2 separate regions of the Homo sapiens genome follow, and region 1 is linked to region 2. Evidence: fine-mapped expression QTL. A gene starts in region 2. The other region holds a variant in brackets. All regions are shown on one strand. Distances are from middle to middle. Region 1 holds the start of TSPAN16 (tetraspanin 16). Region 2 holds the start of TMEM205 (transmembrane protein 205).

What was found.
Region 1: its variant is fine-mapped to the expression of TMEM205 in whole blood (TOPMed, PIP above 0.99).

What each region holds. Positions count from the first base shown.
Region 1 is chr19:11,286,670-11,301,349 of GRCh38, forward strand. It overlaps TSPAN16 (tetraspanin 16), which reads left to right and starts at 9,491. Exons shown (of 7, transcript NM_001282509.2): 1 at 9,491-9,697; 2 at 11,473-11,670; 3 at 12,203-12,277; 4 at 14,532-14,639. The coding sequence starts at 9,629. TSPAN16-AS1 (TSPAN16 antisense RNA 1) reads right to left here. Exons shown (of 3, transcript NR_187778.1): 3 at 14,122-14,567. RefSeq lists enhancers at 11,524-12,025, 12,026-12,525. The variant C/T (reference allele first, on the strand shown) is at 7,170.
Region 2 is chr19:11,338,727-11,353,406 of GRCh38, forward strand. TMEM205 (transmembrane protein 205) reads right to left here and starts at 7,542. Exons shown (of 3, transcript NM_198536.3): 1 at 6,794-7,542; 2 at 6,526-6,689; 3 at 4,052-4,394. The coding sequence starts at 6,893. The coding sequence ends at 4,089. It overlaps CCDC159 (coiled-coil domain containing 159), which reads left to right and starts at 7,793. Exons shown (of 11, transcript NM_001080503.3): 1 at 7,793-7,901; 2 at 10,928-10,961; 3 at 11,212-11,300; 4 at 11,392-11,473; 5 at 12,082-12,277; 6 at 13,180-13,247; 7 at 13,331-13,407. The coding sequence starts at 7,881. It overlaps RAB3D (RAB3D, member RAS oncogene family), which reads right to left and starts at 931. Exons shown (of 5, transcript NM_004283.4): 1 at 743-931. RefSeq lists a silencer at 714-973 and enhancers at 7,063-7,893, 11,744-12,244.

The DNA.
Region 1 (14,680 bases), 52 kb before region 2:
TGTTTCTCAGCCCCCACAGGCAGCTGAAATATGTCATCACCCACCCACTGCTTCCTGTCTGTGTTAGATTTTTGGGAGCTGCCATAACAAATCATCACCAGCTTGCTGGTTTAAAACAACAAGAATTTATTCTTTTATTTTTTGAGACACAGTCTCCCTCTGTCGCCCAGGCTGGAGAGCAGTGGGGCGATCTTAGGTCACTGCAACCACTGCCTCCCAGGCTCAAGCGATTCTTCTGCCTCAGCCTTCTGAGTAGCTGGGATTATAGGCATGTGACACCATGCCCGGCTAATTTTTGTATTTTTAGTAGAGACAGGGTTTTGCCATGTTGGTCAGGCTGGTCTCAAACTCCCGACCTCAGGTGCTCCGCCCGCCTTGGCCTCCCAAAGTGTTGGAATTACAGGCGTCAGCCACCACGCCCAGCCCCCTAAAATTTATTCTTTCACTGTTCTGGATGCCAGAAGTCTGAAATCAAGGTGTCAACAGAGCCGTGCTGCCCCCAAAAGCTCTGGGGAAGGTTCCTTCCTTGCCTCTTCCAACTTCTGGTGGCCCCTGGTGGTCGCTGGATTGTGGCCACGTCACTCCAATCACTGCCTCTTCCATCATCTTGTGGCCTTCTCCCCTCTGTCTGTGTCCAAATGTTCCTCTCCTGTCTCTCTTTCTCTCTCTCATTTTTTTATGAGACAGAGTCTCACTCTATTACCCAGGCTGGAGTGCAATGGTGTAATCTCAGCTCACTGCAACCTCTGCCTCCTGGGTTCAAGTGATTCTCCTGCCTCAGCCTCCCTAGTAGCCTGGAGTACAGGCGTCCACCACCACAACCAGCTAATTTTTCTATTTTTAATAGAGAGAGGGTTTTGCCATGTTAGCCAGGCTGACCTCAAACTCCTTGCCTCAAAATCCACCCACCTCACTCTCCCAAAGCACTGGGTATTACAGGCATGAGCCACCACACCTGGCCTCCTTTTTTTTTTTTTTTGAGATAGAGTCTTGCTCTGTCACCCAGGCTGGAGTGCAGTGGCGCGATCTCGGCTCACTGCAAGTTCTGCCTCCTGGGTTCACGCCATTCTCCTGCCTCAGCTTCCCGAGTAGCTGGGACTACAGGCGCCCGCCACCATGCCTGGCTAATTTTTTTTGTATTTTTAGTAGAGACGGGGTTTCACCGTGTTAGCCAGGATGGTCTCCATCTCCTAATCTTGTGATCCACCCGCCTTGGCCTCCCAAAGTGCTGGAATTACAGGTGTGAGCCACAGAGCCTGGTCTTTTTTTTTTTTTTTTTTTTTTTAACCAACAACCTTATTTATTTATTTTTGAGACAAGGTCTTGCTCTGTTGCCCAGGATGGAATGCAGTGGCACCATCATACCTCACTGCAGCCTCGACTTCCCAGGCTCAAGACATCCTCCCAACTCTGCCTCTAGAGTGGCTAGTACTACAGATACACGCCACCATACCTGGCTAATTTTTATTTTTTTAGAGACAGGGTCTCGATATGTTGCCCGGGCTGGTCTTGAACTCCTGGCCTCAAGCCTCCTGTCTCCTCTGGTCTTGCCCTCCCAAAGTGCTGGGATTACAGGCATGAGCCACCACCCCTAACCCCTCTCCTATGTCTTATAAAGACACCAGATATTGACCAGATATTGGATTTAGGACCTGACCTAAATCTAGGCTGACTTCATCTCAAGATGTTTAACCAATGACATCTGCAAAGACCCTGTTTTCAGATAGGGTCTCATCTGAGGCTCCAGATGGATATGAATTTTGTGGTGACATGACTTAACCCACTGTGGTGCTCACGGTAACCAGAGCTGGACATGAAGTTCTACAGGAACTGCGAGAACATTAGCAGGTACCGGGCCGAGTCATTTCCCTCTATTCCCACCAGGAGGCCTTGTAGTCCTGTTCCTTTTACAACATTTATTTCTTTTCTACTGTGGCAAAATATATATAACTTAAAATTTTGTCATTTTAACCATTTTAAGTGTACAGTTCAGGCCGGGTGTGGTGGCTCACACCTGTAATCCCAGCACTTTAGGAGGCTGAGGTGGGCGGATCACTTGAGGTCGGGAGTTTGAGACCAGCCTGGGCAACATGGTGAAACCCCGTCTCTACTAAAATTACAAAAATTAGCCGGGCATGGTGGCACGCTCCTGTAGTCCCAGGTACTCAGGAGGCTGAGGCAGGAGAGTTGCTCGAACCCAGTAGATGGAGGTTGCAGGGAGCTGAGATCGCAAGATCACGCCACTGCACTCCAGCCTTGGCAACAGAGCAAGACTCTGTCTCAAAAAAAAAAAGAAAAGTACAGTTCAGCAGCATTAAGCACATTCACATCGCTGTGCAGCCATCACCACCATCCGTCTCCAGAACTTTCTCATCTTTCCAAACTGAAACTCTATCCCCATGAAACACTCACTCCCCACGCTCCTCTCCATTCCCTGGTACCCACCATTCTGTTTTCTGTCTTTATGAATCTGATGACTCTAGGGACCTCAAATGAGTGGAATCATGCAATATTTGTCTTTTTTTTTTTTCGAGACAGAGTTCGCTCTGTCGCCCAGGCTGGAGTGCAGTGGCGTGATCTCGGCTCACTGCAAACTCCGCCTCCCGGGTTCACATGATTCTCCTGCCTCAGCCTCCCAAGTAGCCAGGATTACAGGCGCCTGCCACCACATACAGCTAATTTTTGTATTTTTAGTAGAGACGGGGTTTCACCATGTTGGCCAGGCTCCAAACTCCTGACCTCAAGTGATCTGCCAGCCTTGGCCTCCCAAAGTGCTGGGATTATAGGCATGAGCCACCGCGCCTGGCTCCCGTTGTCAATTCTTTTAGTTAAGAATTTGAGCAGGTGTGGTGGCTCATGCCTGTAATCCCAGGATTTTGGGAGGCTGAGGCAGCCAGATCACTTGAGTCCAGGAGTTCAAGACCATTGCTAGAGCCTGTCTCTACCAAAAATGGAAAAAAAAAAAAAAAAGGCAGGTGCGGTAGTGTGTGCCTGTAGTCTCAGCTACTCAGGAGGCTGAGGCGGGAGGATCACTTGAGCCCTGGAGTTTGAAGCTACAATGAACTATGATCACATCACTGCACTCCAGCCTGAGCAACAAAGTGAGATCCAGTCTGCAAAAAAGCAACAAAGATTTCTGCATTCATTTTCTCAGCTTTTGAGCATCTTTTCCTCTAGTTGGACAATCTTATACTTAATCAGCTACTAATACTTTCAAAGGGCATTTAAGGCCGGGCACGATGGCTCACGGCTGTAATCCCAGCACTTTGGGAGGCCGAGGCAGGTGGATCACCTGAGGTCAGGAGATCGAGACCAGTCTGGCCAACATGGTGAAACCCTGTCTCTACCAAAAATACAAAAATTAGCTGGGCATAGTGGGGCATGCCTGTAGTCCCAGCTACTGGGGAGGCCGAGGCAGGAGAATTGCTTGAACCCAGGAAATGAAGGTTGCAATGAGCTGAGATTGCACCACTGCCCTCGGCCTGGGCAACAGAGTGAGACTTCGTCTAAAAAAAAAACAAAAAAACAAAAACAAAGGGCACTTAAGTTGTTGTTTCCAATCATTCACAAGTCAAGCGAGGCTTAAGAGCAGGCATTAGCAAAACTACATTCTGCCACCCATTTTTGTAAATAACAAAACCATCTCATATTATAAATAACATTTTATTTTGACAGAGTCACACTTGTTCATTTACATATATTTACATATTGTCCATTTACATATTTTCTATGGCTGCAATAGCAGAGTCCCAACAGAGACGGTATGGTCCGCAAAGCTGAAAATATTTACTTTCTGGCTCTTTCCAGAAAAATCTGCCAGCTCTTGGCCTATGTGCATTTGAATAAATCTGTAGTAGGAATTCCTAGAAGGAGAAACATTCCCCACAAGGTTTTAAAAGTCCATTTGCGGTTGTTACAGGTCCGCCTGTAATAAAATCTCCAAAAGCTATTTATGAGGTCTTTTTTTTTTTTTTTTGAGACAGAGTCTCACTGTGTTGCCGAGGCTGGCGTGTGCAGTGGCAAGACCTCGGCTCAACGCAACCTCCGCCTCCCGGGTTCAAGCGATTCTCCTGCCTCAGCCTCCTGAGTAGCTGAGATTACAGGCATGCACCACCATGCCCGGCTAATTTTTGCATTTTTGGTAGAGACGGGGTTTCACCATGTTGGCCAGGCTGGTGTCAAACTCCTGACCTCAAGTGATCCGCCTGCCTTGGCCTCCCAAAGTGCTGAGATTACAAGCGTGAGCCACTGCACCTGGCCAACCTTTTCAATGTGTTTAAGTGAGATACTTGAGGAATATGGGATGGGAACAGTCTTGGCCACCCTGGGACCAGCTGCCCAGACAACAGAGGGAATTAGAACCCGATCCCCCATGCTAACAAGAACAGAAGCCCCCTCGAGATGTGTCACCTGCATGCACTGGTCTGGGGCCACTCGCTGCTTCCTGAACTCTCATCAGGACCCTCCAGTCCTCCTAACCCTTCAAGGTTGATACCCCTGAAACCCTCCCTTCTCATCACTGCCTGGGTATACCTTATATACTAAATATTTTTAATATTATCAAGGATCTTGGCTGGGTGTGGTGGCTCATACCTGTAATCCCAGCGCTTTGAGAGGCTAAGTCAGGAGGATTGCTTGAGCCCAGGAGTTCGAGACCAATCTGGGAAACATAGCGAGACCCCTGTCTCCACAAAAAATAAAAAAATTAGCCGGGCGTGGTGGCACGTGCCATTGGTCCCAGCTACTCTAAAGGCCAAAGCGAGAGGATCGCTTGAGCCCAGGAGGGTGAGGTTGCAGGGAGCTGAGATCACACTACTGTACTTCCAGCCTGGGAGACAAAGCGAGACCCTGTCTCAAAAAACAAACAAACAAACAAAAACCCATCTCCTGGTTCTCCTTAATTTCACTTCCCTCTTTTCCAGCCAGAAGCTAAGGTAGCTGAAGGGGTAGAAATTGCAGATCTTTCTTTATGTAGCAAGAGAGAGGAACTGGGAAAGCAGTGAGTGTCCCTGTAGGACAGGGGTCTTCTTATTTTATTTTATTTTTTTGAGACAGAGTCTCGCTTTGTCGCCCAGGCTGGAGTGCAGTGGTGCGGTCTCGGCTCACTGCAACCTCCATCTCCCCAGCTCAAGCAATTCTTCTGCCTCAGCCTCCTGAGTAGCTGGGATTACAGGTGCCCACCTGTAATTAACCGCATCCAGCTAATTTTGTAGTTTTAGTAGAGACGGGGCTTCCCCATGTTGGCCAAGGCTGGTCTTGAACTCCTGACCTCAGGTGATCCACCCGCCTCGGCCTCCCAAAGTGCTGGGATTACAGGTGTGAACCACTGTGCCTGGCCTGACAGGGGTCTTCTGATCACTCCTCAGTGCCTCCCAACCCACCATACAGAGCACAAAGTGTTAACCCTAAGGCAGAATGTGAACATGGGGAAACAAATGCAATTTTAAAAAACAACCAGCCAAACAAAAAAATCCCTAATGGTGGAAATGCTGTTTGTTTTTTTTTCATTTGGTAGCAATGATTACCATCATGCTCCTCTCCTGCCACAATGACGTCAGCCCCTGATGCTGAAACTTGGTGACACTTCTGTGCTTGTCCCCAGTGAGGGCTGAGGTGCACAACCTGGGAACTCCTAGAACAAGTGACTGATGCCAAAGGTGTGGACCAGCCTCTGCAAGGACAGACACCTTTCTTTTGTGTGTCCCAGACTTTTTTTTTGGATGGTGGATTCTGATTTGCCTCCTTCCCCAACGATGGCTATTAAAATACCTGAAACCATAAAATGCCCCTTTGTCAAGGATGGATCTAGGTTTTGTGAGGCGTAAACAAATACATTTCTGCCGCAAAGTTTACATGAACAAGTGAGCAGGCGAACCTACTGCCGCGCTCCTCTCTGACCTTGAAGGGTGGGCGCAAGCTCAGGTCTCATTCATTCACTATTTGTTGTTCAGTGCTCCCAAACACCCAATTGTTGCCCTTGACAACAAACACATGAATTTAAGAAGAGGAGTTCAGGCCAGGCACGGTGGCTCACGCCTGTAATTCCAGCACTTTGGGAGGCCGAGGGGGGTGGATCACTTGAGATCAGGAGTTTGAGACCAGCCTGGCCAACGTGGTGAAACCCCATCTCTACTAAAAATACAAAAATTAGCCGGGCGTGGTGGCGTTGCGCCTATAATCCCAGCTACTCAGGATCCTGAGGCAGGAGAATTGCTTGAGCCTGGGAGGCAGAGGTTGCAGTGAGCCGAAATCGCACCACTGCACTCCAGCCTGGGCAACAGAGAAAGACTCCGTCTGAAAATTAAAAAAAAAAAAAAAAAAGAGGAGAGTTTGTTGACTAATATGGGTCGTTGACATAAATATTCTGTGTGTGATTGTATTCAACACATTTCATTTTTTGGTTGTGATTTTTTTTTTTTTTTTTTTTTTTTGAGACGGAATCTCGCTCTGTCGCCCAGGCTGGAGGGCAGTGGCGCGATCTCGGCTCACTGCAAGCTCCACCTCCCGGGTTCACACCATTCTTCTGCCTCAGCCTCCCGAGTAGCTGGGACTACAGGCGCCCGCCACCACGCCCAGCTATTTTTTTTTGTATTTTTTTTAGTGGAGACGGGGTTTCACCGTGTTAGCCAGGATGGTCTCGATCTCCTGACCTTGTGATCCGCCCGTCTCGGTCTCCCAAAGTGCTGGCATTACAGGCGTGAGCCACCGCGCCCGGCTGGTTAATTGTGCTTTTTAAAAAATATCTCCCATCCCCATAAATATGTACACCTACTATGTGCCCACATAATTAAAAATTAAACAATTTTAATCCCCTAAAAATAAAAAAGGAGACCAAGCATGTGGAGAAATAAATGTCTCAACACACCATAAGGGTGTATTGGAGTGGCCCTTCTATGATTTTGACAATGATATTAAACGTCCTGGCCGGGCGCGGTGGCTCATCCCTGTAATCCCAGCATTTTAGGAGGCCGAGGCAGGAGGATGGCTTGAACCTAGGACTTAGAGGTCAGCCCAGGCAACATAGCGAGACCGCGTCTCTACAAAAAAAAAAAAAAAAAAAAAAAGCAAGTATCTTGCATTTGCAATTCGTCGGATGCCTGCAAAGTTCCGTGGGTGTGTGATGTAGGAATCTGGGGCACGGGAAGTTATTCTTGCTTCATTTCCTGACG[C/T]TGACCGGCTGGGCGGGGTCCCTGGGGCACCCGGGCACATTTGGACGTGTTTGGCAGGGAGAGTCCTGGCCCAGCCCCGGCACGTAGGGCCGCGCTTCCACGGGCCGCCGCCAGGAGACGCGCGAGGCTGTAGATGCGGCTTTGCAGAGAAGCTGGGAGGGTAGAGGGGCTGGGGCGGTCGAGGGGCGGGGCTGCGTGCAGCCGGCCCAGATTCCTTTCCGGCCAGTTCCTTCCAGGAGCTGCTCCCACGTCTACAGCGCCGTCTGCTACTCACCCAGCTCTCTTGTATCTGAGCCTCATTTTCCCACCGTCCTTTAAGCCCGTTTTCCCACTGCTCATTTGCAGCCAAGTTTCCATCTCGCATCTTTGCGTCCCCCTTCTCTGCACCCTCCTTTGCACCCCCATTTTCCTGCTTTCCCTTGAGTCCACATTTCCCAGACCTCCTTTGCCCCCTACATTTTCCAATGCTCTCTTGCATGCCCATTTATCACCCTCTTTTGTGCCCCCATTTCCAGGCCCTCAGCCCCTGGTTCTGAGGTTCCTTACTTCAAATGACCTTTTTTTTTTTTTTTTTTTTTTCCTGAAACGGAGGAGTCTCCCTCTGTCTCCCGGGCTGGAGTGCAGTGATGTGGTCTCGGCTCACTGCAACCTCCGCCTCCCGGGTTCAAGAGATTCTCCTGCCTCAGCCTCCCGAGTAGCTGGGACTGCAGGCACCCGCCACCACAACCGGCTAATTTTTTGTATTTTTAGTAGAGACAGGGTTTCACTGCATTAGCCAGGATGGTCTCGATCTCCTGACCTCGTGATCTACCCACCTCGGCCTCCCAAAGTGCTGGGATTACTGGCGTGAGCCACCGCGCCTGGCTTCAAATGACCTCTTAAATAAAGGTGTGGAAGGACACACTCCTGGCTGTGAACAGCACCCGTGGTCCAGGAGGAGACAGCACTCCTCTGTGAACATCTTGCTTAGTTCTACATGTTCCAAGAAGCAGGCGATTTGACAGACATTCATTAAATTAATTAAAGTGTAAGGTATTTTCTCCCATTTGAACCATCCGCCTTCCCCCAATCCATGCAGGACCTGGACCCAGACACACCCCAGCCCAGGGCTGGACAGAGAGGGGATCGGGGTGGGGCAATGTGAAGCTGCTATGGTTAGGGTGGGGAGGTATGGGGGCAAAGTGGGCTACAGACTGCAGGATCTAGGCCTGGAGGTCTTCAGTGCTGACATACAGAAGGTTTTTGGTCCTGAAATGCTAACTACATCTATCACCATGGAGAAAAGCCCAATGACCTGCTACTTGGGAGGCTAAGGTGGGAGGATCACTTGAGCCAGGGAGGTCGTGGCTGCAGTAAGCCATGATCACACCACTGCACTCCAGCCTGGGCAATGGAGCAAGATCCTGTCTCAAAAGAAAAAAACCCAGTGACCAATGGCTCACAGTTCCAGGACTCTCTGCCTTACAGGTTCCTGCCCTCATGTTACTCTTGGGGCTTCAAAGCCTGGTCTTGCTTCCTGTGTGGCCTCAGGCAGTTCCCTTGGCCTCTCTGAGCCCTGTATGAAGGATGGGCCAAGTATGGGCTTGGGCTTGGGAGGCCCGGTGGCTTGTAGCTAGATTTCTGCATCACAGAGCCTCTGGATCCATTCATTCATTCTCCGCGGGTTTCTTAAGTACTGCAGTGCCAGGCTTTGGGGACACAGCTGTTTTTGTTTTTGTTTTGTTTTGTTTGAGACAGAGTCTCACTCCGTCAACCAGGCTGGAGTGGAATGGCACGACCTCAGATCACTGCAACCTCCACCTCCTGGGTTCAAGTGATTCTCCTGCCCCAGCCTCCCAAGTAGCTGGGATTATAGGCGTGTGCCACCACACCCAGGTAATTTTTGTATTGTTTGTATTGTTAGTAGGTCTCAAACTCCTGACCTCAGGTGATTCGCCCGTCTCCGCCTCCCAACATGCTTTGACTACAGGTGTGAGCCACTGCGCCTGGCAGGGGTCACAGCTGTTAATAGGACAGCCCAAGTTCCCCCCTCCCCCGCTTGGATCCCCCAGTCTACTAGGAGATGTCAACTGTGCAAGTGGTTAGCTCTGGGCACTATGCCCACAGGGTCCTGGTGGCATCTGGAGGGTACCAGGGTAGCATACCATGCCTGTTCTCTTTCCCTGCTGTGACCTGTTTGAAGGATGAGGAGCCAACAGGGGGCAGTTTGGGGCACCTGATTTCCCTGGACCATGAGCCTTGCTCCAGAACCCAATTGTGATGTGATAAAAGGCTTATGACCAGGGCAGGGGGCAGCTGCTGGGCCGCCTTGGACAACCATCAGGCAGCCAGGACACAGAGGGGCAGAGCAAGTCAGCATTGGCGCCCCTTCCTCAGATCCCTATCATCTTGGGAAACAGTAGCCCAGAGGTTCAGGAAGATGTTAACTTAAATGTTCAGGGTGCCCCAGTCTGTTCAGCATGGCTGAAATCCACACTCCGTATTCTTCCTTGAAGAAACTGTTATCTTTACTCAATGGCTTCGTGGCTGTAAGTATGTCACAATCCAGGCCCCTGGTTTGTTGCAGCCCTTCCTCCACAGTCAGCTCCCTGAAAGACAGAAATAAGTTGATCCAAATTGGCATCGAGATCTGTGGTTCCCTGGAGAAGCAGGAGGGATGTAGGGCAGACGGAGGAGGAGGAGCAGGGAGCGTGGGGACCTCCATCAACCGAGAGCTGGTGAAATCCAGCACAGATGAGTGTGATCTGGGGGAGCCCAGGTGGGTGATGGAAGAGCTTGGCTCTAAGTCAAATCCTGTAGCCGACCAAGTTGTTTGGGAAGGCCAGGAGAAAGGGTTATTTTCTTGATCTTTTAAATTTGTCACATTTTTTTCCTTACCGTAAAAGTAACCCGAAATGTACATTGCTAAGGAATTGTCAGGCCGGGGGCGCTGGCTCATGCCTGTAATCCCAACGCTTTGGGAGGCCAAGGCGGGTGGATCACGAGGTCAGGAGTTCAAGACCAGCCTTGGTCAATATGGGGAAACCCCATCTCTACTAAAAATACAAAAAAATTAGATGGGCGTGGTGGCACGTGCCTATAATCCCAGCTACTCAGGAGGCTGAGGCATGTGAATTGCTTGAACCTGGGCGGCAGAGGTTGGCAGTGAGCCGAGATTGTGTCACTGCACTCCAGCCTGGGCAACATAGCGAGACTCTGTCTCAATAAAAAAATAAAAGAATAAAAACATAAAAAGAAGTAATTGTCTTCATTGTAGCATAGTCTAAGGAAAAGCTGCCAGGAAAGAGAAGGAAATGAAATATCACTCCTCCTCTTCACTTGTAACATTTTAAAGAGAATTAAGGCCGGCTGTGGTGACTCATGCCTGTAATCCCAGCACTTTGGGAGGCCGAGGTGGGCAGATCCATTGAGCCAGGAGCTCGAGACCAGCTATAGTGAGATCCCCATCTCTATTTAAAAAATAATAATACAAAATAAAGTGTTATTGGAACATGGCCGTGCTCACTTATTTGGAGATTGTGAACAGCTGCTTTTGGGCTACACCAATAGAACTGCGTAGTTTCAACAGACACCTTAAGTCCTGCAGAGGCCACAACATCTGGGTTTTTCAGAAAAAAAAAATTGCTAATCCCTGTCCTATGACATTATTTTATTTTATTTTATTTTATTTTATTTTGAGACGGAGTCTTGCTCTGTCACCCAGGCTGGAGTGCAGTGGCATGATCTCAGCTCACTGCAACCTCCACCTCCCAGGTTTAAGCGATTCTTCTGCCTCAGCCTCCTGAGTAGCTGGGATTACAGGTGCCCACCACCACGCCCGGCCAATTTTTGTATTTTTAGTAGAGACAGGGTTTCGCCATGTTGGCCAGGCTGGTCTCGAACTCCTGACCTCAGGTGATCCACCTGCTTCGGCCTCCCAAAGTGCTGGGATTACAGGTGTGAGCCACTGTGGCTGGCCTATTTTATTTTTTGAGACAAGGTCTTGATCTGTCATCCAGGCTGGAGTACAGTGGCACAGTCATAGCTCACTGCAGTCTCAACCTCATGAGCTAAAGTGATCCTCCCACTGCAGACACCTGAGTAGCTGAGACTACAGGCACGCACTACTACTGGCTATTTTTTTTTTGTTGGGGAGAGGGTACAGATGAGGTCTTACCAAGCTGGTCTTGAACTCCTGGGCTCAAGTCTTGGCCTTGGCCTCCCAAAGTGCTGGGATTACAGGCATGAGCCACCGCACTCACCCAGTTCTATTTGTATACAACTAACAGATTACTTTTCTTCCTTTCTGGTTTCTGTTCTAAAGGTGTCTGGCATCATCCTAGTTGGCCTGGGCATTGGTGGTAAATGTGGAGGGGCCTCTCTGACGAATGTCCTCGGGCTGTCCTCCGCATACCTCCTTCACGTTGGCAACCTGTGCCTGGTGATGGGATGCATCACGGTACTGCTTGGCTGTGCCGGGTGGTATGGAGCGACTAAAGAGAGCAGAGGCACGCTCTTGTTTGTAAGTTGGATCTGCACACAGACCCCAGAACTGCCTCCCCACACACACAAATCTTTTATTGTGCGTGTTGCAAACAACTTTGCTTGGTGTCACCTATTTTTTTTTTTTTTGCGGGGACAGGGTTTCACTCTGTCGCCCAGGCTGGAGTGCAGTGGCACAATCTTGGTTCACTGCAACCTCTGCCTCCCAGGTTCAAGCGATTCTCCTGCCTCAGCCTCCCGAGTAGCTGGGATTACAGGCACCCCTACCATGCCCTGCTAATTTTTGTATTTTTAGTAGAGACGGGATTTTGCCATGTTGGCCAGGCTGGTCTTGAAGTCCTGACCTCGTGATCCACCCGCCTCGGTCTCCTAAAGTGCTGGGATTACAAGTGTTGAGCCACTGCTCCCGGTCGAATTGTTTTAAACTGGAGAGGCCAGGGTGGCCTGGGGTGGAGGGTCGGGGGAACAGAGACAACCCCTCACCTGCAGGGTATAAGGTCGGGAGGAGGCTGAGCAGGCTCCCAGGCCCTCTCTCCCCGTGTGTCTTTTAGTGCATCCTGTCAATGGTTATTGTCCTCATCATGGAAGTTACAGCTGCCACAGTGGTCCTTCTTTTCTTTCCAATTGTAAGTACAGCCCTGCTCCTCCCACATAGCATTAGAAAGATAAAGAACCAAGGACGGGCACAGTGGCTCACGCCTCTAATCCCAGCATTTTGGGAGGCTGAGTCTGGTGGATCACCTGAGGTCATGAGTTTGAGACCAGCCTGGCCAACATGGTGAAACCCCGTCTCTACCAAAAATACAAAAAATTAGCCAGGCGTGATAGCACGCACTTGTAATCCAGCTACTCAGGAGGCTGAGGCAGGATAATCCCTTGAACCCGGGAGGCAGAGGTTGCAGTGAGCCAAGATTGCACCACTGCACTCCAGCCTGGGCAACAGAATGAGACTCCGTTAAAAAAAAAAAAAAGATATAGAACCAATAGAAGTCCGCCCCTCCCCGCCAGGCACCCATGATCGATTGTGGGGACCCAGTGATGGAGGGGCCCATCACACGTGCCACCTTTGATGGTGTGAGAAGCTGAAATCCTCAGCCTGCCTCTCCAAGTCCTCACAAAACCTGCTGAGTTCATTTAGTTCATCCCTCTTGGGTTTGGTGGCAGGAGAAGGGGAGATGATCAGAAGTGTTTGCATATTGATTGGGGTTTTGAAATGTATTCAAAATAGAGGGACAATTTAGCAAAATCCATCCAAATGACAAAAGCTTCAGCACTTTGACCTGGCAGTCCCATCTCTGGGAATTATTCAAGAACTCACTTGCTGGTGTGCAGAATCACATTCATGCCAGGGCATGTGAAAGATTGCAAAGAGGGCCAGGTGCGGTGGCTCACGCCTATAATCCCAGCACTTTGGGAGGCCGAGGCAGGTGGATCACCTGAGGTCAGGAGTTCGAGACCAGCCTGGCCAACATGGTAAAACCCCGTCTCTATTAAAAATACAAAAAAACTAGCCAGGCCTGGTGGCACATGCCTGTAATCCCAGCTATTCAGGAGGCTGAGGCAGGAGAATCACTTGAACCCGGGAGCCAGAGGTTGCAGTGAGCTGAGATTGTGCCATTGCACTCCAGCCTGGGCAACAAGAGTGAAACTCTGTCTCAAAAAAAGAAAAAAAAAAAAAAAGAAAAGAAAAGAAAAAAGAAAGATTGCAAAGAACCTAGTGAGTATGAATAAGGGTTTAGGCAAGTTAAAATACATCGACACAGTGGAATCCTGTACATCAGGTACAGGGAAGGAGGCGGCTCTCTGGGCACCAGATGGAATGCTCTCCAGGATAGAGTGCCGTCCTCATTGGCATCCTCCCCAGAGGCTGACCCTGAAACAATAATTCAAAGGCATGTGGTTTATTTGAGAGGTGATCCCAGAAAACACCTGCAGGGGACATGGCAAATGAGGCAGGTAAGGGAAGACAGCCCACAAAAGGGGATGCTGGGCACAGCATAGAACATGCACCTAGGTTATTCCACTCAAGTGGAGAGGGAGCTGGGATATTGATCCACCAACTCCAACCAGCCATTGATGGAGGGCTGCTCCCAGGGGGCATGTGGGCTCAGAGGCCAGAGAATCCTCACTTGCTGGCACTAGGGAGTCAGGCCAGTAGGCACAGAACTGACAAGGGCCACAGAGTTATGGGCAGGCCACCAAGAGCCCCTGCTACTCCTGTCGAGAACAGCCAGACGCAGAAAAATGAGTGCAGCATAAACCAAAGAGGAAGAATAGTGAAAATATACTTTGCTTTGACACACATAGAAGAACATCTCTTTGGGGACACAGGAAACAGTTAACAGTCATTGGCATGGAGTGGGAGGAAACTTTTGGCTGGGAGGAAGGGGTGGGAGAGAGACTTTTCATGGTCTGTTCTCCTGTGCATGTCAATTTCGAACCACGTGCCTCTATCATCGCTTTGCAAAAGGATTTTTTAAACCTTTATTTAAAAAACAGAAAATTAAATGTGCCCCTTTTGTGCAGACAGAGATTCCGTGGAAGATGATATTCAATTCTTTAATGGAGTTACAGCCACATCGTGGGTGCAGCAGGGTGTAGGCGATTCCAAAGAGCAGATGATTCAAATTCGTGTGCGATGGGTACAGAGAGATACGCTTGGCTCCAGACCCACGCGTCTCCCTGTTTCCCTCTCTTGTGGTGGGGGCACAGTAGCCTTCGTGTGTCTTCCTCTAGCACAGACCCCTGAGCTGAGGGTAGGAAAAATGAAGGCAGCACGAGGGACGCTCCCACCTCCCACTCTATCCTCAAGAACCTCGGCCAATGAACGGGCCACTCTTGCTAGTTGGGGTACTGATCACTTCCTGTCCTCTCTGTGAGGTTGGAGATGTGGCCTTGGAACACACCTTCGTGACCCTGAGGAAGAATTACAGAGGTTACAACGAGCCAGACGACTATTCTACACAGTGGAACTTGGTCATGGAGAAGGTGAGGCTTACTTAAAAAAAAAAAATTGTGGTGTAAAGGTA
Region 2 (14,680 bases):
TAACACAACCCCACCACCACGACCACTGCCGCCCACCCTTGGTCTTTCCAGGCAATCTGTCCCACGGCTAGGCTCCTTGAATCTGCCCACACTCCAACATGCTGCTTCATCCGAGTCCAAGGTGCTCCCTCAACCCTCATAACCTCTCCCAGGCCTCAGTTTCCCCAGCTGTCTATGGCCGCTGCGGGAACCGCACGGAGAGGCTGCAGAAGGCCTGGATGCAGGCGGGGCAGAGGCAGAGACAGCCCTGGCACAGCTATTTCTCAACTGCCTTTGGGGCTTTTTTCCATTTTAAACCAGGACCCAACCGGCCCCACCCCGTGTTCCAGGAGAACGAGTTTAAGGAGGGGAAGAGAAGAGGCAGGAAACCTTTCCCCACGCAGGGCAGGGCCGCAAGGCTGGGGCCCCCACCTCCCCCAGCCTTAGCTCACCTGTGTCAGTCGGTCCCGCCTCTTTCTAACCATCTGCCGACCCTCCCTCAAGCCTGGCCCCGGAGGGCTCGCCTCTGTTCCCCTTCACTAGATTTGGGGCGCCCCAGCCAATGCAGGTGGACTCAGGAGTTTCCCCCATCACCATATGGTCCCAACGCCTGTCCCCAGCTGGGCTCTCTGCCCCGCCCGCGCCCCATCAGCGCTTCCCAAGTGCCCAGCTGGGTGGGGGCGAGGGCAGAGGCGTTCCCCGCAGCCCCGCCTTTGTTCCCCAGACCCCCTACCTTCCTCCCAAACCCCCGTACCCCACAGACCTGCTCGGATGCGGAGGGGCCGGGTGGGCTGCGCTCCTTCCCAGGGGTGACCTCGCGTAGGGGGCGCCGCCTGCAGGGGTTCCGCCTGTGAACTCGCTGCGGCTTGGCCCTGGCCGCGACCCCGACCCCGCAGCCGCAGAAGCCAGCAGCCTGCAGCCACCCGGATCCCGCGCGGGCTCCGCCCAGAAGGCGGAGGAAGGGCCGTTCCCGGAGCGGGGGATGGGGGAGGACGAAGAGGGGCCGAGTCTTGGGCGGGGCTTTCAGAGAGCGGGTGGGAGGGGCTGGAAGCTGCACCAAGCGTCTAGAGCCCGTCCTAGCCAAGCAACATCTCATTTTCCCAGCTGCTTGTAAAGAGCTTCTACTATACGCACGGCTGTTAAAAGCATAGAGTCTTGGGCCTGGTTCGAGTCCCAGCTCCACCACTTTCTAGTCTTGTGGCTTTGGACGCGTTACTTAACCTCTTTGAGCCTCAGTTTCCCCATCCGTCAAGTAGCTCATAGCGAGAGTACCCAACCTCACAGAGTTGTGGGAGGATTCTGATCTGAGTTAGTGTTTGTCAAGTGCAGTGCCGGCCTTAAAGTAGGCTAGGCCAGGCGCGGTGGCCTGTAATTACAGCAGTTTGGGAGGCCGAGGCAGGAGAATCACTTGAGGCCAGGAGTTTGAGACCAGCTTGGGCATCGTAAGGAGACCTCATCTCTACTAAAAATAACAAAAATTAGCCAGGTGTGGTGGCGTGCGTCTGTAACCCCAGCTACTTGGGAGGCTGAGGCAGGAGGATTGCTGGAGACATCGAGGCTGCAGTGAGCCTTGATTGCACCACAGCACTCCAGCCTGGGCAACAGAGCAAGACCCTGTTTCAAATAAATAAAAATAAACGAGAGCTGGGCGCGGTGGCTTATGCCTGTAATCCCAGTACTTTGGGAGGCCAAGGCAGGCGGATCACTTGAGGTCAGGAATTTAAGACCAGCCTGGCCAACATGGTGAAACCTCATCTCTACTAAAAAAAAAAAAAAAAAAATACAAATATTAGGGGCTGGGCACGGTGGCTCACACCTGTAATCTCAGCACTTTGGGAGGCCGAGGTGGGCAGATCACCTGAGGTCGGGAGTTCGAGACTAGCCTGGCCAACGTGAAGAAACCCTGTCTCTACTAAAAAATACAAAATTAGCCAGGCGTGGTGACGCATGCCTGTAATCCCAGTTACTCTGGAAGCTGAGGCAGGAGAATTGCTTGAACCCGGAAGGCGGAGGTTGCAGTGAGCCGAGATCACGCCACTGCACTCCAGCCTGGGCAAAAAGAGCGAAACTCTGTCTCAAATAAATAAATAAATATACAAAAATTAGCCGAGCATGGTGGTGCACACCTGTAATCCCAACTACTTGGGAGGCTGAGGCAGGAGAATCGCTTGAACCCAGGAGGTGGAGGTTGCAGTGAGCCGAGATCGCGCCACTGCACTCCAGCCTAGACGATGGAGTGAGACTCTGTCTCAAAAAAAAAAAAAAAAAAATTAAAAAATAAATGAGGCTGGGCACAGTGTCTGATGCCTGTAATCCCAGCCCTTTGGGAGGCTGAGGCAGGAGGATTCCTTGAGCTCAGGAGTTCAAGGCCAGCCTAGGCAACATAGAGATCCCAACTCTACAAAAAATTTTTTTGAAAATTAGCTGGCCACAAAAAAAAAAAAAAAAAAAAAAAGAAAAAGAAAAAAAGAAAAAAGAAAAAAAAATTAGCTGACCATGGGGGCACATACATGTAGTCTTAGCTACTCCGGAGGCTGAGGCAGGGGGATTGCTTGAGCCTGGGAGAGAGAGAGGCTTCAGTAGGTTATGACTGTGCCACTGCACTCCAGCCTAGGTGACAGGGCAAGACTTTATCTCTAAATAAAGAAAGTTAAAGTGGGTTGGATCCCTTTGTGAAATACCCAGGTTTTGCTGGTGTTGGAATCCCAGCAATTCCACCTTACTCAATTTGCTGAACTTCTCTGAGCCCCCACTGCCTCGTGGGAACAAAAGTAGCTGCCTCAAGAGCTGCCACGTGGATGAATGAGGATGAAGTGCATTAGTTAGGAAGGGCTGGGTTATGCTTAGTAACAAGCACTCCCAAAGACTTCACGGCCCCAACAGCTAAGGTTTGGTTCCCATGATGGTTGTTTTGTGAAGTGAAAATGCAGCAAATTATGTACTGTTTTGTAATACTTCTCCTTGGAAGGGACACATGCCACCTCTGCTCACATTTCATTGGCCAAAGCAAGTCACATGGCCACCCCCAATGTCAGTAGGGTGGGAAATATGATTGTCCTCTAGGATCAGAACCATCTGGGCCTGGTGGCTGGCGCCCGTAGTCCGAGCTACTTTGGAGGCTGAGGTGGGAGGATTGCTTGAGTCCAGGAGTTGGAGGCTGCAATGAGCTATCATCACGCCACTTCACTCCAGCTTGGGTGACAGAGCAAGACCCTGTCAAAAACAAGACAAAACAGGCTGGGCGTGGTGGCTCACGCCTGTAATCCCAGCACTTTGGGAGGCCGAAGCGAGCAGATGGCCTCAGGTCGGGAATTCAAGGCCAGCCTGGCCAGCACAGTGAAACTCCGTCTCTACTAAAAATAACAAAAATTAGATGGGCGTGGTGGCAGGTGTCTGTAATCCCAGCTACTCAGGAAGCTGAGGCAGAATAATCGCTTGAACCCGGGAGGCGGAGATTGCAGTGAGCCAAGGTCATGCCATTGCACTCCAGCCTGGGCAACAGAGCAAGACTCTGTCTCAAAAAAAAAAAAAAAAAAAAAGACAAAACAGCCAGGCATGGTGGCTCATGCCTGTAATCCTAGCACTTTGAGAGGCCAAGGCGGGTGGATCACCTGAGGTCGGGAGTTCAAGACCAGCCTGACCAACATGGAGAAACCCTGTCTCTAGTAAAAATACAAAAAATTAGCCAGGCATGGTGGCGGATGCCTGTAATCCCATCTACTCAGGAGGCTGAGGCAGGAGAATCGCTTGAACCCAGAGGCAGAGGTTGTAGGGAGCTGAGATCGCACCACTGCACTCCAGCCTGGACAACAAGAGTGAAACTCCGTCTCAAAACAGAACAAAACAAAACAAAACAAAACAAATAATACATGATATGTCAGTGGTTAACAACATGTCTGGTATACAGCAGGTGCTCAATAAATGGGCATCATTATAGGAGAGGCTTACAGGATAAAATGGCTGACACTCCAAACCATCATGCTTCATGAATGGGGAAACTGAGGCTCTTGGCTCTACCCTTGCCTGCCCCTCCCCCTGCTTCTCATGGGGGAAAAAAAAAAGACAGCAGCCATTTCTGAAGAAGCATTTATTAGCATGCAGGGCCCATGCTAGAGGCTCCTTATTTCCAGGGCAAGGCCAGCGAGACAGAGCCCATTGCTCAGGACGCAGCCCAGATTGCAAAGAGAGGACAGCCCATGGTAGCGGAAGAAATTCTGGCGGAGAGCACTGTACTTGGGGTCCTTCTCTCGCAGCTGGCGGTAGGGATCGGGACCCTGGTGGCTGCCTGGTACCTCCCCACCCAGGCCTCGCTCCTTCTCCACGGTTTGCAGGGCCCACATGGCAGCTGTGGTGCGGGGTTCCAGCCAGCGGGCGTTGACAGTGGCCAGCGTAAGGCTCAGGAACAGCAGGTAAAGCTGGCAGGGAGAGCAGAGGAGAAGGTGAGCCATGCCTGGGAGGCCAGAGGGGCCCTAGGGAGGGTCTTTCTGCATCCTCAACAGCACAGGGGTGGGGGTGGGGACAGCACTGGATCAAAAAACCTGCCTCCCCCTCTTTCCTTGAACCCAGACTGAGGGACCCAAAGCAGAACTCCAGCTCTTCTACTCTGAAACTGGCAGCTCTGAAGGAAAGGCTCCATCCCCACCTCCTCTATCCCCCCGCAAAACCTCCCGAGCCTCTTCTCCTCTGATACTCAGACTGGAAGTCCCCAGAGCAGGATCTCTTTCCTCAGTGGCCACAGCCCAGACGCCTGAAGCTGACATTGGACCCACAGAGGGTGAATAAAAAGTCTTTGAGTGGCTGGGCGCAGTGGCTCATGCCTATAGTCCCAGCACTTTGGGAGGCTGAGGTGAGTGGATCACTTGAGGCCAGGAGTTCAAGGACAGCCTGGGCAACATGGGCAAAACCCCGTCTCTACTAAAAATACAAAAATTAGCCAGGTGTGGGGGCTGTCCCCCTGTAATCCCAGCTACTCAGGAGGCTGAGGCATGAGGATTGCTTGAACCCGGGAAGGAGAGGTTGCAGTGAGCCAAGATTGCACCACTGCACTGCAGCCTGGGCGACAGAGCAAGACCCTGTCTCAAAAACAAACAAAACAAAACAAAAAGTCTTTGAAGGCAGGCATGGTGGCTCATGCCTGTAATCTGTAATCCCGGTGCTTTCAGAGATGGGGGTGGGAGCATCACTTGAAGCCAGGAGTTCAAGACCAGCCTGAACAACACAGCAAAGACCCTCATCTTTTTTTTTTTTTTTTTTTTTGAGACTGAGTTTCACTCTTGTTGCCCAGGCTGGAGTGCAATGGCGTGACCTTGGCCCACTGCAATCTCCGCCTCCTGGGTTCAAGCAATTCTCCTGCCTCAGCCTCCCAAATAGCTGGGATTACAGGCGCACACCACCACACCCAGCTAATTTTTGTATTTTTAGTAGAGACGGGGTTTCACCATGTTAGCCAGGATGGTCTCGCGCTCCTGACCTCGTGATCCACCCACCTCAGCCTCCCAAAGTGCTGGGATTACAGGCATGAGCCACTGCGCCCAGCCTATTTTTTTTAATTAGGAAAAATGTTTTTGCCATTCTCACATTGCTATAACACCATCTCTATCTGTTTTAAGTATTTGAATACCTTCTGAGCCTGTTTCATTAAAATAAATAAATAAAAGGAAAAAAAAACAGTCTGTGAAGTTCTAGTTACCCATAATCCCCTCCTGTCTGTGAGATTATTCTTGAAACACCTGTCAGGTCTCACTTACCCACGTCTATGAAACATAATGCAGGCAAGGGAAGGCCAGAGTAAATAGAGAAATCTGAGATGCAGAGATAGTTTCTTGCCTTGTGGCCAGAAAAATGTGTGGAAGGGGATAGGAAACCATAAATTCCCAGTCGGGCTGGTTTTTAAACAATAAGCTGGGGTCAATGTGCCAGCTCAGCTGAGTCACCACAGCTTGGCAGCAGGCCCAGCCAGCGGGAGGAGAGGGAACAGCAGCTAGCAGGGAGATGCTGGGGGATAGACAGGGCTGCTGGGGACTGTTGTACAGGCTGTGCACTGCTCAAGGGTATCCAGAGCCCAGCTTTGTATCTACCAGGAAGAAGGGGCTCCCCTCCCCTCCCTTCCTCTTCCCTCCCCTCTCCTTTCCTCTCCTCTCCTTTCCTTTCCTTTTTTTTTTTTTTTTTGAGATGGAGTCTTGCTTTGTCGCCCTGGCTGGAGTGCAATGGCATGATCTCGGCTCACTGCAACCTCTGCCTCCTCGGTTCAAGCAATTCTCCTGCCTCAGCCTCCTGAGTAGCTGGAATTACAGGTGCACACCACCACGCCTGGCTAATTTTTTTGTATTTTTAGTAGAGACGGGGTTTCACCATGTTGGTCAGGCTGGTCTTGAACTCCTGACCTCGTGATCCGCCCACCTCGGCCTCCCAAAGTGTTGGGATTACAGGCGTGAGCCACCATGCCTAGCCTTTTTTTTTCCCCCCCTGGAAAAGGTGTAGCCATAGGCGCTGACTGAGGTCCTGGGAACAAGTCTCCAGAGGGCAGTGGCACTCAAACCCACGTACCTGGCTGGCCTCCCAGAATGTGAGCTGAGCCCAAGCATGCTGTGAAGCCAAGATGCAGAGGTTGATGAAGGCACAGCCCATGGAGATGTGGAAGTAGAAGGGGAAGAGTTTGCTCTGCACTAGTCCGAAGGTATGTCGGGGAAGGCTTCGGAAAAGCAGGAAGCCTGCAGGGTATGGGGACCACAGGGGTGTTAGGGCACTTCCCGGTTCCCCTCTTATTTCCATCCCCACCCCAGGTACCCATGACATCCAAGCTGAGGGTCCCTACCTGAGACGAAGGTCACCCACATTTGCATGCCCCAGGCACCTGACAAGACCAGTAGATGGACCATCTTAATCAGGCCTCCTAGGTTCCCGCCTTCCTCCATCTTGCAGTCCTGGGAAGGAGGCACCGGGTGGCTCAGAACTTTACCTTTGCCTCATGCGTGGCCTTCAGACCCTGTGAGCCCGCTCGGGGACAGGGTTACGGCCAATCCAGCAGAGATTCTGGCAAAGCATCCCGGGAATGAGAGTGAGAAAGGCCCAAAGCAGTCAAGGCCCAAAGACAACCCTCGACCCCATCTCTCCAAATGTCAGCCCTCAAGATCTCAGGCTCTCTGGACCTCAATCTCCATGCCACTTCAGAGGCCCCAAATTTCAGCCACAGCAGCTCCAGATCATAGCCCTAGGTCTTCAGAGATCACTCCACTAATTCCCAAATATCACCCCAGGGATCCAGTTCTGACAGCCAAGACCACTCCTCTCATAAAATAATACCGGATATTAGGTGAAGATCCCGAAAGCCCCGAGGAAACCCTAAATCTCATCCTGAGGACACCGATCCCACCAAAGCCCCGAGGAAACGCCAAATCTCATCCCGAGGACACCGATCCCACCGTTAGGAACCGGGACCTCAATCCGCAGCACCCGGATTCCGAGAACAGAGGCGTCGGGGCCAAATGGGCTGAATCTGGTACCTCACTCCCACGCCCCCGGGTGGACAGCGACCCTCCTCGGCCGCGTCCCCTCGTGGGTTTCCCCCAACCAATAATTCGTCCCGCCTCCCAGCTGAGCCCGAAGCCAATCGGGTCGTAGATCTGCACCTTTCTATCCCGCCCTCCTGGGTATTGACTAATCGTAGAAACCCCCCTGGGATCCCGCCCCCTCCACGGGCTTTTATCCAATTACGCCGCGGCTACTAAGCGCAGCTGAAGCGTGAAGGCGCCAATGAGGCCTTCGGCTACTCCGGCAGGGGCGGAACTAAAATGCCGGCCACACCCCTCTCTGTGACTCAGTCTCTGAGCGTTTTAATACGATGGTGTCCCCGCGGGATCAAACTTCAGCGTCACAGCTGAGGACTGGCTTCGTGGTCCCTGATGGGAGAGCATGAACAGGTGGTATGTGGTAGGTGGGGTTCTGGAGCCTGGCGGGTGTAGATTTCACAACCCAGGGGGCGGAGCCAGGATGATGACCCCGCCCCCTCCCTAAATAATTCTCCCGGGAGGGACACGGAAGCAGCAACCGGGATGGGACGGGGAGAGAGGAGGCACTACTGGGGACCTAAGCTGGTTCTCAAATGCCTCTCCTTTTCCCCTCCAAGCCTCCCAGGCTTCCTATGGTCCCTAAGTCCCGGGTTCTCAGCGTGACATTCCAGAGCAAACACAGCTCCCCATTACTCTATACCAGGCACTGGCATGGATTAATTTATCTAATCACAACATCCCAGTAAGGTGACTATTATGACATCTCGTTTTTATAGTTGGGGACACTGAGGCATGGAGAGGTTCAGTAACGCGACCAGTATTACACAGCTGGAAGGGACAGAGCTAGGATTTGAACCCAGGCCATCTAGCTGGAGAGTTTCCCTGCTTAACCGTCATACTCTGCTGTCCCTGGAAGTGAGGACCTCCCTGAGGCAGTGACTCTCGGAGGGGCAGCTTAGGACATTTCAGGCAGAAGAAAAACGTGTACATCACAGGGTGGGTGTGAAGATCCAGTGAATGCTTAGGGGATGCCCGGCACTCAATTAGGTGCTCAGAAAATAGGAGCCTAAAAAAGGATTAAGGAAGATTTTACTGAAGATATGCTGAATAGTTTTTGTTTGTCTGTTTGTGTTTGAGACGGAGTTTCGCTCTCGTTGCCCGGGCTGGAGCACAGTGGCATGATATCGGCTCACTGCAACCTCCGCCTCTGAGGTTCAAGCGACTCTCCTGCCTCACCCTTCCAAGTAGCTGAGATTACAGGCATGCGCCACCACGCCTGGCTAATTTTGTATTTTTAGTAGAGATGGGGTTTCTCCATGTTGGCCAGGCTGGTCTCGAACTCCTGACCTCAGGTGATCCACCTGCCTTGGCCTCCCAAAGTGCTAGGATTACAGGTGTTAGCCACCGTGCCCAGCCTGAGTAGTTCTGAAGAGCGTGTAGGAGTCTTCCAGGTCGACTGAATCAGGCAGAGGGCCTGGCAAGGGTGACAGAGAGAAAGGTCTAGAGGATTTGGGGGAAGAGGCTGAGTGTGACTCAGGGCAAGGTGCCTTTCACCTAGAAGTTTCTCCAGGCAGACCTGCCCCAGATATCTCCATCTGTGCCATATGTGGCTATACTGGAGGGGGAGGGGAGTTGAATGTGAGACCCAGAGCTCAGCTGTTTCCTGTTTCCAGCCTCTTCTAGCACGGGTCTGGGCCCCAATTCAGCTAACATTTATTGAACAGATATGCCCTGCCTCTCCTGCTCACACTCTATGGCTGGCATTCACCTGTGGGGCCAGGTCGAAACTCCTGGCTTGGCCGTCAATGCCTTACTGGAGCTGCTCTGCTAACCTCCTGCTGCTTCCTCTCGGACCTCGATTCAGCCATCATGAATTTACCAGCATAGAGCATGTGATTCCACACCTCCAAGCTTTTGCACATGCTGCTCCCTGCCAGGAAAGGCCTTCCTTTAAGCCAATGTCAAGGTCCCTTTTTTCTTTGGACTCTTCTGAGGCCTGATTTTTTTTCTTTGGGGCCTTCTGGGTCCTTCTCACTGCCCAGCCCAAACCTTGGGGCTGGGATAATCTTTTTTGTTGTTGTTTTTTATTTTTGGAGACTGAGTCTCACTCTGTTGCTGAGGCTGGAGTGCAGTGGTGCAATCTCGGCTCACTGCCACCTCCGCCTCCCGGGTTCAAGTGATTCTCCTGCCTCAGCCTCCCGAGTAGCTGGGATTACAGGCGCCCACCACCATGCCCAGCTAGTTTTTGTATTTTTAGTAGAGACGGGGTTTCACCATATTGGCCACGCTGGTCTCGAACTCCTGACCTCAAGTGATCCTCCCGCCTTGGCCTCCCAAAGTGCTAGGATTACAGGCGTGAGCCACCATTGCTGGCCGCGTCTGGCCTTGGGATCATCTTTTATCCAGCTTTGGCTCCTACCATAACTGAGAAGCCTTGAGTTTAGGGCTGAGGCCTCTCTGGCATGTCAGGGAGGGTCTGGGGGCACTGGGGACATGGGGACTTATCTCAAAGCAGCCCCTGCTTCCCTACTCACAGCGACCCTCTTTTGGCCGGCCTACCCCGGGACCCTGACTACTCTGTGTCCTGCCTCTACTCACCTCCCTCACCCTCCAGCATGTGTTTGCCTGCTAACATGAAGTGTGACAAGTACTGGGGTTAGTTAGGGGGCTCCCATAGGGCTGGGGACACTGGGAGGGGCTGGGAATGTGAGGAGTGCCCTGCACTGTCCCTCAAGGAAGCCCTCACCCCTAGGCTCTTCCTCGGACAAGGCTCTGGAGCGTACAGCTCACTGGTCCAGGACTCCAGAGCCAGAGACCTTGGGATGCCCTGCTTCTGGGGACACAGTGAGGACTGCAGACTGCAGGCCAGGGTGGGGCTCAGGGCCTTCGCCACATGAGGCTGCCCCCTCCCCCAGTCCAGACCTGCAGAAGCAGTGCTGTAATGACCAGGACATTTTGAAGAGGCATCACAACGTAGCTAAGGTCACCCCCACCCGGGAAACCCCTTCAATGCAGAAAACCACTGCAATCTACTGCTGTGGGGCTTAGGGAAGGGGCTGTAAGGCAGAGAGACTCCCATGAATGCACCCACTGTGTTTCTTCAGCACCTAGAACAGCACCTGGCACTCAGCAGGCCCTGGCTAAGCAAGTCTTAAATGAATGGATGAAGGAATGAATGGAAGGAAAGAGTGTGGTTGTGTGTCTTCCATGGGGATTTGGCTGTGATCGTCTCTCAGCCACATAAGTGCACTTCTGAGCATATGTAGCCCAAGGGGGAGGTGCATGAATATGCCTGGAGTGCAGCTTTGCCTGCACTTACGGTTTGGGACACCTAGAACTGAGGAGATCCAACTCTTGTCCAGCCCTCAAAACTGGGTTGAGGTGAGCAAGGAGGCAGCTCAGGGACAAATTTCTACTCCCATCTCATCTCTCTTCCTTAGAAGCCCTTGGAGACCAGCTCTTCCAAAGTCAAAGGTGAGAAATCTCCTTTCCAACAAAACTGTGTGGGGAAGACCTGCTGGTTTCTACCTCTACCCTCTGCCCCAGCATCAGCTGTCCCCCTGCCATGGTCACCCATTCACTCCTGCCCAAGGCTGAGTGGGCCCCTGTTCTATATCTTATCCCCTGTCCCTACTGCTACTCTGAGCCTTTGCTGACCTCTGCCCTGCCCTTGCCCCAGACCCCACCCCTTACAGCCCTGGCTCACCCTCTTCTCTGCCCACAGCCAAGACCATTGTGATGATTCCCGACTCCCAGAAGCTCCTGCGATGTGAACTTGAGTCACTCAAGAGCCAGTTACAGGCCCAGACCAAGGTGAACCACCTTGGCCCTGCCCCCAGCAACCTCTGTTTCTCCTTGCCCTCCCCTCCTTCCTCCCACCCCAAGGCTGACCTCTTTCCCCCAGGCTTTCGAGTTCCTGAACCACTCAGTGACCATGTTGGAGAAGGAGAGCTGCTTGCAGCAAATCAAGATTCAGCAGCTTGAAGGTGAGGACTGACCAGAGATCAAGGTCAGGCTAGGCCAGGCGTGGTGGCTCACGCCTGTAATCCCAGCATTTGGGGAGGCCAAAGAGGTTGGATCACTTGAGGTCAGGAGTTTGAGACCAGCCTGGACAACATGGTGAAACCCCATATCTACTTAAAAAAAAAAAAAAAAAAAGCCAGGTGCTGTCACTCATGGCTGTAATCCCAGCACTTTGGGAGGCTGAGGCAGGTGGATCACCTGAGGTCAGGAGTTCGAGACCAGCCTGGCCAATATGGTGAAACCCCATCTCTACTAACAATACAAAAATTAGCCAGGCGTGGTGGTATGCACCTGTAGTCCCAGCCACTCAGGAGGCTGAGAAAGGAGAATTGCTTTCTGGGAGGCAGAGGTTGCAGTGAGCCGAGATCACGCCACTGCACTCCAGCCTGGGCAACAAAGCAAGACTTCATCTCAAAAGAAAAAAAGTCAGGCTGGAAGCTGGTCCTGTTGGGATCAGCTGGGCCAGGCCAGGGTGAGGGAAATTGGGAGAGTCTGGGTTCTGGGTCAAGATTAGGACAAGCTGGGTTCAGGGTGGGATCAGGGCTCAGTCAAGGTCCCACACTCTCTGCAGAGGTGCTGAGCCCCACAGGCCGCCAGGGAGAGAAGGAGGAGCACAAGTGGGGCATGGAGCAGGGCCGGCAGGAGCTGTATGGGGCCCTGACCCAAGGCCTTCAGGGGCTGGAGAAGACCCTGCGTGACAGTGAGGAGATGCAGCGGGCCCGCACCACTCGCTGCCTGCAGCTGCTGGCCCAGGAGATCCGGGACAGGTCGGGGATGGCGGGAGGGCAGCTTGGAGTCCACAGGAGGGAAGGGAGACCCAGAACTGGGGAATGGAGGCAGGATGGGGGAAATGGCAGATGCCTGGGGGAGGGGGACTGAGGGATGGTGGAAAGCCTGAGGGACAAGAAGAGGGAATGAGGCCGGGTGTGGTGGCTCATGCCTGTAATCCCAGCACTTTGGGAAGCCGAGATGGGCGGATCACCTGAGGTCAGGAGTTCGAGACCAGCCTGGCCAACATGGTGAAACCCCATCTCTACTAAAAATACAAGAATTAGTCAGGCATGGCGGCGGGTGCCTGTAATCCCAGCTACTAGGGAAGCTGAAGCAGGAGAATCACTGGAACCCAGGAGGCAGAGGTTGCAGTGAGCTGAGATCGCACCACTGCACTCCAGCCTGGGCGCCTGGGCGCCTGGGCGGCAGAGCGAGACTCTGTCTAAAAAAAAAAAAATGAGGAGGGGATGAGAGGCTCAGGGGAGACAGGTGGCTGGTGGGGGCGGGGGAGTGGGAAACTGAGAGGCCAGAAGGCAGGGAAGACAGAAAGCTGGAGGTGGGATGGAAAAGGAGGCCAGGGGATCAGAAAGGGGGATGGCAGGGAAGACTGAGAGGACAGGAGACTGGGGGTATAGAAAGTCGGGGGACAGGAGGTGGGGAGGTGGAGGCCAGGTGATAGGAGGCTGAGTGGGGTGGGAGAGACTGAGAGAATGGGAGGCTGGGGATCAGAAGGAGAGGAGGGGGATGAGGGTAGGGGGATTGTAGAAGGGGAGGGGAAAAGGGCAGGGAAGTGTGGGGAGGGGACAGAGCTTGCGGGGATGGGTGGAGGCACAGATAGGGGCATGGGAGGTCAGGGGCCAGGCAGGGAGTGCAGGTCTAGGCTGCACTGTCCCCTCAGCAAGAAGTTCCTGTGGGAGGAGCTGGAACTGGTGCGGGAGGAGGTGACCTTCATCTATCAGAAGCTCCGTGAGTTCCTGGAGCCCACAGCCGGTGTGTGGGGAGGGGGTCCTTCTTCAGCCTTTGTCCGCCTGAGCCCCCTCCCTCCACAGAAGCGCAGGAGGATGAGATCTCAGAGAACTTGGTGAACATTCAGAAAATGCAGAAAACGCAGGTGAAATGCCGCAAAGTGAGTGGAGGAGATGGGGACCCTGGGGAGGAGTGGGAGAGGGAGGGATGGGGATTTTGGCCAGCCTCCACCATGAGATTGGAGCCTGGGTTCAAATCTCAGCTCTGCCACTCACTGCTGTGTGACTGTGGGCAAGTCACTTGACCTCTCTGAGCCTCAGTTTCCTCATCTGTATAATGGATGTAATAATAACTCATCTTGGCTGGGCGCGGTGGCTCACGCCTGTAATCCCAGCACTTTGGGAGGCTGAGGTGGGTGGATCAGAAGTTCGAGACCAGCCTGGCCAACATGATGAAACCCCGTCTATACTAAAAATACAAAAATTAGCTGGGTGTGGTGGCAGGCACCTGTAATCCCAGCTACTCAGGAGACTGAGGATGGAGAATGGCTTGAACCTAGGAGGCAGAGGTTACAGCGAGCCGAAATCGTGCCATTGCACTCCACCCTGGGCGACAAGAGCAAAACTCCCATCTTAAAAAAAAAAAAGAAAAAAGAAAAAGAAAAAGAAAACTCATCCTGTTGGGTGCTGTGGCATGCCTGTTATCTCAGCACTTTGGGAGGCTGAGGTGGTTGGATTGCTTGAGGCCAGAAGTTCAAGACCAGCCTAGGCAACATGGCAAAACCCTGTCTCTACAAAAAACAAAAAAAACAAGAGGGTGTGGTGGCACATGCCTGTAGACTTAGCTACTCAGAAGGCTGAGGTAGGGGGATCACTTGAGCCTTGGAGGTTCAGGGTGCGTTGAGCCCTGATAGTACCATTGCACTCTAGCCTGGGCGACAGACTGAGACCCTGTCTCAAAAAAGAAACAAACACCAAAAACAAAAACAAAAAACAAAACAAAAAAAAACACTCCTCCCTACCTGATCAGGTGTCTGTATTAGCTGAGTACTGTGCACTTGAATGCAGTCTGGCATATAACAAGTGCTATATAACAGTCACCTTTTACTATTATCATTATTATTATTTATTTTGTTTTCTTTTTTGAGACGGAGTTTCCCTCTTGTTGCCCAGGCTGGAGTGCAATGGCGCGATCTCAACTCACTGCAACCTCTGCCTCCTGGGTTCAAGCAATTCTCCTGCCTCAGCCTCTCGAGTAGCTGGGACAACAGGCGCCCGCCACCACGCCCGGCTAACTTTTTGTATTTTTAGTAGAGATGCGGTTTCACTGTGTTAGCCAGGATGGTCTCAATCTCCTGACCTCGTGATCTGCCCGCCTCGGCCTCCCAAAGTGCTGGGATTACAGGTGTGAGCCACCGCGCCTGGCACTATTGT